Linked DNA regions of Homo sapiens. The protein of the gene in region 2 interacts with the protein of the main gene of each other region in a pairwise test. Each region holds a gene or a part of one and is shown on either strand. Other genes may lie near its edges.

Region 1 (3,755 bases), on a different chromosome or scaffold from region 2:
TGTCCATCAAGAGACAAACGGATAAAGAAAATGTTGTACGTACGCACAATAGAGTACTAATCAGCCAGAAGAAAAGAATTAGAATCTGTCATTTGCAACAACATGGATGGAAGTGGAGGATTTCGTGACAAGTGAAATAAGTCAGGCACAGAAAGACAAACTTGGCGTGGTCTCACTTATTCGTGGGAGCTAAAAATGAAAACAGTTGAACTCATGGAGCTAGGAAGTAGAATGATGGTTACCAGAGGCTGGGAAGGGGTAGCGAGCTGGGGGGAAGTGGAATGGTTAATGGATACATTAATATAGTTAGAAAGAAGTAATAAGAGCTAACGTTTGGTAGTACAACAGGGTGACTACAGTCAACAATAATTTATTGTACATTTAAAAATAACTAAAAGGGGCCGGGCACAGTGGCTCACACCTGTAATCCCAGCACTTTAGGAGGCCGAGGCAGGCAGATCACCTGAGGTCAGGAGTTCCAGACCAGCCTGACCAACGTGGAGAAACCCCATCTCTACTAAAAATACAAAATTAGTCGGGCGTAGTGGCACATGCCTGTAATCCCAGCTACTCGGGAGGCTGAGGCAGGAGAATCGCTTGAACCTAGGAGGCAGAGGTTGCGGTGAGCTGAGATTGAGCCATTGCACTCCAGCCTGGGCAACAAGAGCGAAACTCCATCTCAAATAATAAAACTAATAATAATAATAATAACTAAAAGAGTATATTTGGAATGTTTGTAACACAAAGATATGATAAATGGCTGAGCTCATGGATTAAACAAACAAACAAAATGTCAGAAGTATTTCCTCTGGAGTATAGAGTAAAATGGGGAGGAGTAAGATTAAGTGAACTTTTCTTCTTATTTATACAATTTATTACTGTATTATTGGAAGTTTTACAATGAGAAACATTTATTTTTTTTAAAAAAAAGAAACAATATTTTTAAAGGAATGCCAAAAGATCCATTGGTAGATATGTGATGAAATTACTATAAAAATGTTCGTTCACAGTAAATGGGCACATTTCGTAGTGCATATAGTATATAGTATAGTTTGGGATTACTTTGGATCAAGCAGATAGCCAGGCTCACAGTGGTTCTTGTTTGAATAACAGGCTGGGAATCATAGTTAATTAATCTCTGTAAGCCATAGTTTCCTTATCTGTAAAATGAAATAATACTGTCCTAGTTATATCTCAACATCCACCACAGTGTTTAGCCCCTTTTTAAGAAAATGAATAATTCAGGTTTAATTTAGAGGTCTAAGATCGAGACTTTTGAAATATAACCTTGTTTTTTTTCCTTGTGAATTCTATGAGTGCAGTTTACATGAGCACAATTCAGATGGATGTGTTTTCAACCACACACCTGGCAAGTCACCACACAGTGCTGTGCAACTGATATCATTTGAGAAGAAGAGGATAACTGAGTTCCTGTTGGAAAAACAGCAATTTGAAAGTACTGCTTAAATGAACACAAGATGGTGTCAGGATTCCAAGTTTCTAGTTCTTTCTAGGGAGTTACCTAAGGTCTAAGTTTTATCCTGAACAGAATCTCTTGGGGAACTAAAATGCTACCAATGAAAAGCTCTTGATACTCCTACATCATGAATATTATTGAGCTCTAAAACTTGAACTGGTCGTGTCAGGAGAACCTTTAACTGCTCATGGCAGTTCTTGTGGACTGAGAGGAAGTACTACTGGAGATCTTGGTGATAGTGGCCAAAAGGAAAGGGTATGATTATGATTGCTGGGAAGCAGATGGCTTTTGAATATGTTCATCCAAATCCTAAGCCAGAGACTGTGTTTAGTGCTTGTTCCTCCTGGGAAGGCTTATGGTAAACAAAAATACAGTTTAACATGTTTAATGTTTTGAAATTCTGGGAGAAGAATAGAAATATTCATTTGTTCCTAGGTGTCCACATGAGCATGGAGGTATTCTAAAGTGTAAGAAGTGACAGCATAGGCATGGTTAAAATCTCAGATTCTGACCTCATCCTGGCTCCTCCACTTACTACCTTCAGCATTAGCTCAATAAACCTCAATGCTTTGTCTATAAGATTATGGTGACAATTACATTTAGTTAAAAGATTATAAAGTTTCGGCCGTACACGGTGGCTCACGCCTGTAATCCCAGCACTTTGAGAGGCCGTGGCGGATCACGAGGTCAGGAGATAGAGACCATCCTAGCTAACACGGTGAAACCCTGTCTCTACTAAAAATACAAAAAATTAGCCGGGCGTGGTTGCAGGTGCCTGTAGTCCCAGCTACTTGGGAGGCTGAGGCAGGAGAATGGCCTGAACCTGGGAGGCGGAGCTTGCAGTGAGCCGAGATCGCTCCACTGCATTCCAGCCTGGGCGATAGGGCGAGACTCCGTCTCAAAAAAAAAAAAAAAAAAAAAAAAAAGATTATAAGATTTCAACGGGATAATACATATAAAATGTTTAACTAGCACCGTGTCTTACACATAGTAAAGTCTCACCAAAGTAACCAAATGTAGTAGTACACCCTTATCTATGGCTTTGCTTTTAGTTACCTACAGTCAACTGCAGTCTGAAAATATTATAGTATTTTGAGAGAGAGAGAATGAGAGAGAAAGAGAGAGAGAGACATTCACATAGCAATACACTGTTTTATTTTATTGTTAGTTATTATTGTTAATCTCTTACTGTGACTGATTTATAAATTAAACTTTACAATAGGTACGTACGCATAGGACTAAACAGTCTATATAGGCTTTGGTACTATCCACAGTTTCAAGCATCCATTGGAGGTCTTGGAACATATCTCCCATGGATAAGGTGGGCTACTGTATTGGTTTAAGTTCCTCAGATTTCCTGGACTACCTGACATTAGGCTCTACAATTCTTTCATACATGCTACTTCAATCAGCAGCATGCTTAGCACATAGCATGTGTTTAATAAAAGTTAAATTTAAAATAAAAATCAAGATTTCCAGTTGAACTGAAGCTAGGGAAACCTACACATATTTTGTGCGTTAGTTTGTTTGGAAACATCGTCTCTACAGAGAGTATCTGATGACATGGGAGATGACATGATAGAGTCAGTCTGGTGGAGAAGATATCTAGGCCTTCATCAGTCCCAAATCCACATTATCCATGTAGGGCTGCTTTTGTAAGATCAACGGAACCCATGTCATTGATGTAATGCTCATTACTGCCAGCATCCTTACTGTTTTTGAATATCTATGTAATAGTTGTTTTTCTTATATTATTTCACTGAATTCTTAAAATGCCTTAATGGAGATGCTCTTATTCCTATGTTAACAAGAAAGCTGAGTCTCAAAGTGGTTCTATAACTTGTTCAGTGCCACACACTAGTGAGTGAAAAAGCCATGACTAGAATGAGGGCCACAGAGAGCGGGACAAGCCTTTTTGCCGGGGAAGATAAGCTAAATGTCTCCCTAGACAGGCAGCCCTACATCCTATTGGGTCTTATTGATATCCTGACTTGCTCTAGACTTGTCTGAAACCCTGGTTTATCTGGCTTCAAAGCTTACGAAGCTTCCACCAGACCAGAGGACCATCATTTGAGTAGTGATGAAATATTCTCCAAAAAACAACAACAAATGCGACAAATTATCAGGGACCTTAGAGACTCTCAACATAAATCCCAGTTTCAGAAATTGTGTCTCAAAAAAGTAAAGTCTTAATAAATATTAGGTTGGTGCAAAAGTAGTTGTGGTTGCCATTAAAAGCAATGGCAAAACAGCAATTACTTTTCCACCAACCTATAAA
Region 2 (3,755 bases):
TATTTACTATTGCTCACTTTCAAATTCTCTAAGAGGCTTATACAGCCCTACCCATGGCCATGGGATTTTCCTTATCTCCTGAAAGGTGGTTTACCTTCCCATCTTCATGGGAATAATGCCTTAGCCAATGGAATAAAAGTAGTCTTAGTTTATGTCAAATCTGAGCAAAAGTTTTAAGAGGCATCATGAGTCCAGAAACAAACTCACACATATATGGTCAACTAATTTTCCACAAGGGTGTCAAGAATACAAAACGCAGAATAGTCTCTTCAATAAATGATGCTGAGAAAACTGGATCTACAAATGCAAAAGAATGAAATTGGGACCATAGCTTATACCATACACAATCAACTCAAAATGGAGGAAAGACTTAAATGTAAGGGGTGAAATGGTAAAACTCCTAGAGAAAAATAAGGAAAAAGCTCCTTGACATTGGTCTTGGTAATGATTGTTTGGATATGACACCAAAAGCACAGGCAACCAATGCAAAAATAAGTTGAATTATATCAAACTAAAAAGCTTCTGCACAACTAAGGAAACAATCAACAGAAGAAAAGGTAAACCATGTATCTGGTAAGGGGTTAATATCGAAAATATATAATGAACTCCTGCAGCTCAATAGCAAGAAAAACCAAATAACCTAATTAAAAAATGGACTATGGACCTGAATAGACATTTCTCCAATGAAGACATACAAATGGCCAACAGGTATACGAAAAGGTGCTCAACATCACTACTCATTAGAGAAATATAAAGCAAAACCACAATGAGATATCACCTCACACTTGTTAACAAAAGATTAACAAGTATTAGTAAGGATGTGAAGAAAAGGGAACCCTGGTACACTGTCAGTGAGAATGTAAACTGGTACAGCCATTATAAAAAATAGGGCCGGGCGCGGTGGCTCACGCCTGTAATCCCAGCACTTTGGGAGGCCGAGGCAGGCGGATCATGAGGTCAGGAGATTGAGACCATCCTGGCTAACATGGTGAACCCCATCTCTATTAAAAAATACACAAAACTAGCCGGGCATGGTGGTGGGTGCCTGTAGTCCCAGCTACTCAGGAGGCTGAGGCAGGAGAATGGTGTGAACCTGGGAGGTGGAGCTTGCAATGAGCTGAGATCGCGCCACCGCGCTCCAGCCTGGGCGACAGAGCGAGACTCCGTCTCAAAAAAAAAATAAATAAATAGTATAGTGGTTTCTCAAAAAATAAAAAAGAGAACTACCATACGATCTAGCAATCCCACTTCTGGGTATTTATCCAAAGGAATTGAAATCAGGATCCTGCAAATACCTGCACTCCCATGTTCATTGCAGCATTATTGATAATGGCCAAGATATGGAAGCAGCCTAAATGTCCACAGATGGATGACTAGATAAAGAAAACTTGGCATGCATATATAATGGAGTACCATTTGGCCTTAAAAAAGAAAGAAATCATGTTGGGTACAGTGGCTTATGCCTGTAATCCCAACACTTTGGGAGGCTGAGGTGGGAGGATCACTTGAGGCCAAGAGTTCAAGACCAGCCTGGGCAACACAGTGAGATCCTGACCTCTATGAAAAAAATACAAAAATTTGCCAGGCATGATAGCACACACCTGTAGTCCTAACCACTCAGGAGGCTGAGGTGGAAGGATTGCTTGTGCCCAGAAATTCCAGGCTATAGTGAGCTATGATTACATCCCTGTACTCCAGCTTGGGCAACAGAGTGAGATCCTGTCTCTTAAAAACAGAAAGAGAGAGAAATCCTGCCATTTTCAACAACATGGATGGACCTGGAGGACATTATGCTAAGTAAAACACGCCAGACACAGAAAGACAAAGCTATGTAATCTCACTTATATGTGGAATCTAAAATAGTCAAACTCATAAAAACAGACAGAAGGGTGACTGACAAGGGCTAGGAGGAGGGGGAAATGGGGAGGTTGATGGTCAAAGGCTACAAAGTTTCCGTTATGCAAGAAAATTAAGTTCTGAAGATCTACTCTACAGCATACCGCCTAGAGATAACAATTACATGTTGTATACTTAAAATTCTCTAAGACAGTAGATCTTATGTTAAGTGTTCTTAACAGATACACACACAAAATAACAAGCATAAAAGAGGAGGGGGAACCTATGGGGGGTGATGGGTATGTCTATGTCCTTGACGGTCATGATGGTTTCACAGCATATACTTATCCCCAAACTGATTGAGCTGTATACATAAAATAAGAATTTAAAAAGAGACATCATGAGTTTCCTCCATTCTGTTGATCTTCCCTTCTGTTATAAGAATGGGAATGATCTACACAGAAGCTATTTCTTTAGCCTGTGTCCCTAAATGGGGAAACACGGAGCCTGGACAAATGCCATAGCAAAAATGAAGCCCACATGTAAAATGGGCAAGAAATAAACCTTTTCCCCTGTAAGCCACTGGAATTTCATTTGTTTGTTCTTAATGAATGAAATCAGCTTTTAACAAAGCTGATTAACAGTGACTCCAAGTGATAGAAGCATGGATCCCTGGTCATCGCTTGGATGACAGCAGCCCAGAGATTTGTCCAACCAGGAGCAACTGTGTTAGATTGCTGCCTGAATGAGAAATAAACTGTTACTGTTCTAAGCCACTGAAATACTGGGTTGTCTATTACTATAATCAGCCTACTTGATTAATATACTTTCTCTGTGAAGTCTTTCCTTATCACTGAAATAAATCATTCTTTATTCAATTTCTGTACTTTGTGTATTCTTTTATTATACATATCACACTATTAAATAGCATCTTTTTTTAATACCAGCTTCCTCTACTAGTCCATAAGCTCCATGAGGGTTGAGATGCTATCCTAATCATCTTTGAATCCCATCATGTAGCAGATGTTCATTTTAAAATAGTCAGGTGCTCTGACTGTAACATATCAGTTGTTCATAACACTCATTCACCCCAAAATCTTTTTAAAGTCAGTAAAATATTTCCCTTTTTCAATAACAGGGTCTCTGTAACATTACTGCTTTGGGAGTAGGTGAGTAAGGTCTGGTAAGTAAGGACTAATTCATTGAATACATGAAATACTGCCAAACTGGAACTACTAAAACTCAAATGATAACTTGAGATTACAATGGCCATTAGCCTAAAACCTAAAATTTTACAGCTAATACAAAAATTAAGAATGGTTTATTGGGCCAGACATGGTGGCTCATGCCTGTAATCCTAACATTTTGGGAGGCCGAGGCAGGAAGACTGCTTGAAGCCGGGAGTTCAAGACCAGCCTGGGCAACAAAGTGAAACTCTGTTTCTATCTAAAAATTGTAATAAGCAAAAACATTTTTTAATTTAAAAAAGAATGGTTTCTTTCCAAAAGTAATTAAGTATACACACATATCAATCCGTACCTGATTTCTCTGCTTTTCAACTTCCTCCTCAGACATGCAGTTGGACAGAACCTCAGACCATTCCAGGCGCTCCTCAGGTGTCTTCATTGAAAGACTATCAAATATTTCGAAGTAAAGCCACGCCAGGTCCTTGGCCAACTGCAGCTTCCCACAAGCGATGTGCCTCCATGTAGACCAGTAGAGGCGCGGGTAAGCTCCTTCTGTGGCCCGGATTTGCACATAGGTGGATATCTTCCTGAGATAGTGAAGACTAAACTTGGATGGAGGGGGGACCTGCAAGGCACCCACTATAAAGGGTTCTGCTTTCACCCAGAGGAGAACTCTGGACTGATCCATATTATCTCTAAGGACATCAGGGTGAAAAGGCTTCTTTGCATACC

Evidence for each region. Proteins that work in one complex are often made in the same cells at the same time.
Region 1: the proteins of TBCCD1 (region 2) and LURAP1L interact in binary tests that used the Homo sapiens proteins (3 or more experiments, as listed by UniProt).

What each region holds. Positions count from the first base shown.
Region 1 is NC_000009.12:12,777,915-12,781,669, reverse strand, and holds part of LURAP1L (leucine rich adaptor protein 1-like), read right to left. Parts: intron 1-3,755.
Region 2 is NC_000003.12:186,560,619-186,564,373, forward strand, and holds part of TBCCD1 (TBCC domain-containing protein 1), read right to left. Parts: intron 3,755-3,755; 5' UTR 3,712-3,754; coding exon 3,376-3,711; intron 1-3,375. UniProt on the Homo sapiens protein: Plays a role in the regulation of centrosome and Golgi apparatus positioning, with consequences on cell shape and cell migration.